2 separate regions of the Homo sapiens genome follow, and region 1 is linked to region 2. The links come from fine-mapping of genetic effects on gene expression. A gene starts in region 2. The other region holds a variant in brackets. All regions are shown on one strand. Distances are from middle to middle.

Evidence for each region. PIP is the estimated chance that this variant, and not a neighbour inherited with it, causes the effect.
Region 1: its variant is the best candidate, but not a certain one, in a credible set for the expression of ZNF12 in whole blood (INTERVAL, PIP 0.64).

What each region holds. Positions count from the first base shown.
Region 1 is chr7:6,629,645-6,632,548 of GRCh38, reverse strand. No RefSeq gene overlaps it. Among named protein-coding and RNA genes, the nearest start is that of ZNF316, 6.2 kb to the left of the region's middle. The variant C/T (reference allele first, on the strand shown) is at 1,820.
Region 2 is chr7:6,705,372-6,708,275 of GRCh38, reverse strand. ZNF12 (zinc finger protein 12) reads left to right here and starts at 1,329. Exons shown (of 5, transcript NM_016265.4): 1 at 1,329-1,844. RefSeq lists an enhancer at 1,161-1,660 and a silencer at 1,354-1,713.

The DNA of each region.
Region 1 (2,904 bases), 76 kb after region 2:
TGGGCGTGGTGGTGGGTGCCTGTAATCCCAGCTACTCAGGAGACTGAGGCAGGAGAATCGCTTGAACCCGGGAGGCGGAGGTTGCAGTGAGCCGAGATCGCGCCCCTGCACTCCAGTATGGGCGACAGAGTGAGACTCCGTCTCAAAAAAAAAAAAAAGTAAATCATACCCTTTTTGCACTAGTACAATTCCATGTCAGTCATCTATCTATGAGCAGTTGGTGGGGTTGGGGCTGGGGGAATATCCAAGCATACTCATGAAACAGTTCCTGGGGTGTCATCTGCCTGGCTCCTGCCCATCCTCCACGGTGGGTGCTGGCAGTGAGGAGGGTGCCAGCCCACCCAGTGATTGGCATGAAGCTTGTTCTATGCTTCAGCCTTCGTGTGTCTCACTGGCAGGGACACAGGGTATGTGAAAAGTTAACAGGCATCTGGGGCATTTGGAATTCTGTGAGGCCGAGAGCATCTCCGTTCAAGTACATGGGCCTGCCCCGTATCTGCACAGACCCACCTGCAGGGACTGAACATTGACTGGGCAGAGCTCCCCTTCACTCGGCTCTCGGGACTTCCTCAGCTGTCTCTTCCTGCAGGAAGCCCTCCTGGGCTCCTCCTGAGCTCTCACACCAGGGGCTGGCAGGGAGCCTGGCACAGAAGGATGCTGATGGATGCCCCCACGGAGCCTCTGTGTGCCTGGAGTGGGCTGAAGGCAGTAGTGCTGCTATTAAAACCATAGGTGAGGCTGGGAGCGGTGACTCATGTTTCGTGTTAGTCGGTTCTCCTATTGCTATAAAGAACTGCCAGAGACTAGGTAATTTAAGAAAAGAGGTTTCACTGGCTCATGTCTCTGCAGCCTATACAGAAAGCATGGCTGGGGAGGCCTCAGGAAACGTACAGTCATGGCAAAAGGTGAAGGGGGAGCCAGCACTTCAAATGGTGGCAGCAGGAGGAATGAGAGAGAAGGGAGGGGTGCCACACACTTGTAAACAACTAGATCTCACAAGAACTCACTGTCGTGGTGACAGCTCCAGGGGGAATGGTATCAAACCATGAGAAATTGCCCCCATAATCCAATCATCTCCCACCAGGCCCCACCTCTAACACTGGGGATTACAGTTGAACTTGAGAGGCCAGGAATGGTGGCTCAGGCCTGTAATCTCGGTACTTTGGGAGGCCAAAGTGGGTGGATCACCTGAGGTCAGGAGTTTGAGTCCAGCCTGGCGAACCTGGTGAAACCCCGTCTCTACTAAAAATACAAAAATTAGCTAGGAGTGGTGGCGAGTGCCTATAATCCCCGCTACTCAGGAGGCTGAGGCAGGAGAATCTCTTGAACCCAGGAGGTGGAGGTTGCAGTGAGCTGAGATCACACCATTGCACTCCAGCCTGGGTGACAGAGGGAGACTCAGTCTCCAAAAATAAATAAATAACAATTGAACATGAGATTTGGGTGGGGACACAGATCCAAACCATATTATTCCTGTAATCCCAGCACTTTGGGAAGCCAAGGTGGGAGGATCGATCACTTGAGCCCAGGAGTTCGAGAACAGCCTGAGCAACATAGTGAGACTTCGTCTCTACAAAAAGTAGAAAAAATTAGCCAGGTATGGTGGTGCGAGCCTGTAGTTCCAGCTACTCGGGAGGGTGAGCCTGCAGTGAGCTATGATGGTGCCACTGCACTCTAGCCTGAGCGACAGACTGAGACCCTGTCTCAAGAAAAAAAAGAAAAAGAAAACAAAGCTGGACAGTAGTTAAAACGGTAAAAAACAGATTTTATTCAGGAACTATTGCAATAGGGAAAAGAGACCTCAGTATAGAACTGGGCT[C/T]AATTCTGAATACAGCAGGGACAAGTGGAGACTTCCAGCCTAGGAGCAGGTTGGAGGGGAGTGGGTGGGTGGAAAAATACGAAGGAGTGGGAGGTTGTGGTTGAACTGACTCCCAGGATCCTGGCTGAAGGCAGGCAAGAGTGATCAGAGGGCACCTGGCAGGTGGTGGGAGAGGAGGGATTTGATCAGATACCAAGGGTGGAGATTCTGGCTAAACTGACTTGACAGGATTTTTGCTACAGCTGGGCAATGCAGAGACGGGCACAGACACTCAAAGGTCAAGGCTGAGTGGAGAAGAGGCTCCGGGGAGGCTGAAGGCCGCTCAAGGAAATAGAAAGACTGTGTTTCCAGCCCTGCATGCCTCCTCATCGGCAGTTGAGACCCCACTGCTGCCTGCTCCTTCCCATTCCATTGCGGGGACCTGGACTTGATCTAGCCCTGTCTGGTGGACACACTTTTGTAGGTGCCAGGAGGGAGGAATCTGCTCCTCCTTTCTGCCCCCGACAGCCCCCAGCCCCAGTGGCCACTCACTCCCAGCATGCCTTGCAGCTGCCTGAGTGGGAGACTGTGGTGGACTCGGAGCTGGGGCAGGGAGGACAAGCTTCTTCTGGAAGGGCAATGGGCAGAGGGTGACCTGGTCTTTCACGGTGGTGTCAAGGACCATAGAGCCAGGCCACATTCTCCCCACGTTAACTTTCCCAAAGGGATCAGTTTTCTGCTGAACAATCATTCCCATTTACTGGGAATTATTGGGCAGTGCCTCATGCCTGTAATCCCAGCACTTTGTGGGGGGCTGAGGCGAGAGGATTGATTGAGCCCAGGAGTTTGAGACCAGTCTGGGCAACATAGCAAGACCTCGCCTCTACAAAAAATTTAAAAATTAGAGGTCGGGGCCGGGCGTGGTGGCTCACGCCTGTAATCCCAGCACTTTGGGAGGCCAAGGTGGGCAGATCACGAGGTCAGGAGATCGAGACCATCCTGGCTAACACGGTGAAACCCCGTCTCTACTAAAAATACAAAAAATTAGCTGGGCATGGTGGCGGGCGCCTGTAGTCCCAGCTACTCGGGAGGCTGAGGCAGGAGAA
Region 2 (2,904 bases):
ACTCTGATACAGATATAAAAATGAGCACATGCTAAAGATTTTATTTAATTCAAGAGGAAACAGGCAGATATTATAACTGGTTCAAAAGAGAATCTGAGGGCTGGACATGGTGGCTCATGCCTGTAATCCCAGCACTTTGGGAGGCTGAGGCGGGTGGATCACTTGAGGTCAGGAGTTTAAGACCAGCCTGGCCAACATGGTGAAACCCCCATCTCTACTAAAAATTCAAAAATTAGTCGGGCTTGGTGGTGTGCACCTGTAATCCCAGTTACTTGGGAGGCTGAGGCAGGAGAATTCCTTGAACCAGTGAGCCAAGATCTCGCCACTGAACTCCAGCATGCACAGCAGAGTGAGACCCTGTCTCAAAATTAAAAAAAAAAAGAGAGAGAGAGAGAGAATCTGAGAAACAGACATATTTTCAGATCAGGAATATTGAAATGATTATGTAAATGGAGAAATGCAGTCAAAACTGCATTTTCTCTAGTGGGGATTGTGGGAAGTCAACCAACTTCCACCAGACAGAACATAACTTGCATCGATTACCTACAGTTTTCAAAGAGGTGTAAAATACCTCAAAGATAAGGAACAGGGTTGGAATCAAGTAACATGGCTTTCTAAATGTGCTTCGTTTTCCATTAAGACGCAAATTTCTTCTTCTGCTTGCCTCATCCTCTTCAGGAAGTAGAGTTCTGGCTAATTTTTTTCTTCTTTCAATTCTGTACATATTCTCTGAGTTTTCTAGCTATCACTAATTCAAAGTGATTTGGAAAAGCTGGAATTCTTTTTCTCCTTGTTGGGGCGAGGATGGTATCCTGTCCCAGGCTAATCCTCTATTATTTCATCCATGGGCTCTATTTACTGAAGTTTTCGTTAAATGTGTCATTGTGATCATAAGCTAGCATGATGCACCCTCTTGTTCCATTTGTCACGGTTGCACATGGACATTGATTTTAAGCCTTGAGCTCTCCGGTAAGGCAGGACTGGCCCAGGCATGGTCTACGAGATGCTACAGGAAGCAGAGACTTTCTAGACGTTCCCTTAAAGATAGTCAAGACATCCCCATGAAGACGTTCCCTTAAACTAAGGAGAAATTTGAGTCTGGGGTTCGGCGTTGCCAATTCTCTTAGCATAGAGCCTCTTAACCGCTAGACCAGATAGAGACATTTCAAATGGCTCCTAAATTTGGGGAGCGCGTAGGCTCATGGGAAATAGAGTCACGGTATTTGTCCTGGGACCGGCGGCGGGTCCCGGGAGGCGGACTTCCGGTGCATTCCTGCGCATGTGCACCCCTCTCTGTGTGCGTGTTCGCGCATGCGCGCCGCGGCCGCAGTGCCCTCGCTTCCTGTGCGTCCCCAGGTCACCGCTCGCCCTAGTTCCCAGGCTTTGGCCTCCGGTGGGCGAGAATCGCGGAGCCTGCGGGGCTGGGCGCCGAAGAGCCGGGCCGGCACCCAAGCGGGCGCGGGGCTGTGCGGGCCAGGCGGAGGCTCAAGCGGGGATCCCCGAGCACGACCCCCGGAGCCGACGGCGCTGGGGCCCAAGGGGCCGGCCGGGCGGTGACGACGGCGGAGGCGAAGGGGCGGCGGGACCCGGGCCCGGCCCGTGTGCGTCCTCGACGGCCCGGCCCCGGCTCCGCAGGACGGTGAGCCCCAGGGAGACGGATCTGGGCTCCGGGAGGGACGCCCCGCCTGGATTTGTCCCGTAGGCCCGGCCCGGGCCCCTCTGGAGCAGAACGGCCTTGGTGAGGTGGACAGGAAGGGACCTCGCGAGCAGACGCGCGCCCGCGACAGCAATCCCGCCCCGGCCTGTCGGGAGCGGTGGGGCAGAGGCTGCGGAGCCCCAGGAGGGTAAGTCGTGGGTTTGCGGGCCCGGGGCGAGAAGGGCCTGGGTGAAGTCACCGCGTGTAGGGCACCTTAGAGTGAGGGACAGTGGAAGGTCTCGATCGCTTGCAGGAGTGACGTGTGTTTGGGTTTGAAGGCAGGGTCCGGCGAGGACGAGGCTTACGGGGGCGTGGGGGGTGTCACCAGCCTCAGCTGCGGACGTTGTCTCCACTCCCCCCTCACCCCAGCAGCCCTTCCTCCTCTCTCTGCTCCAGATTGCTACCGTATCTAAACGTCCGTCAGCACCTCTGTTCTCTCATTTAAGTGCTGATTCCCCCTTAGGTCTGCTCTTGTGGAATCATACGTTGTAGTGCAGGAACAGCCTGCAGGAACTATCTCTTGCTGCCTCATTTGCTAGGGGAAGGGCCTTAGCAGGTGGGTGACTTGTCCGAGGTTTTGTGGGTGGAGTTGCTCATAGTAGAACTCTGGAGTTTTATCTCCCAGGCCAGTGTTCTGTCCCCCGTATCCTAGTTAAGTGAGCGTAAGTTCTTCAATAAAAGATCCTTTTGAGTAGCACACTGAAGTTTCTGCAAATAAAGACTCAATTATGCCGACTGTATTCCTTTATTTAGGGCATCCTGTGGATTTTCTGATCTTTATTTAAAAGAGTAAGAAAATAGATGAGTATTACAGAATTCATTTTTTGTTGTTTGTTTTTTGTTTGTTTGTTTGTTTGTTTTTGAGACAAGTTTCGCTTTGTTGCCCAGGCTGGAGTGCAATGGTGCCATCCCAGCTCACTGCAACCTCCGCCTCCCGGGTTCAAGCGATTCTCCTGCCTCAGCCTCCCGAGTAGCTGGGGTTACAGGCGCCCGCCACCACGCCCAGCTAATTTTTGTATTTTTACTAGACATGGGGTTTCACCATGTTGGCCAGGCTGGTCACCAGAATTCCTTTTTAAATCTTGCATTTAATGATGGCAGATTATTTCAGTAGGATCCAGTATTCATTCACCATGAGAATCTCATCCACTCAGTCACAAGGTAGCCATGTGTGAGTTTCAAATGTGCAGATCGGTCCCCCTCCTGAT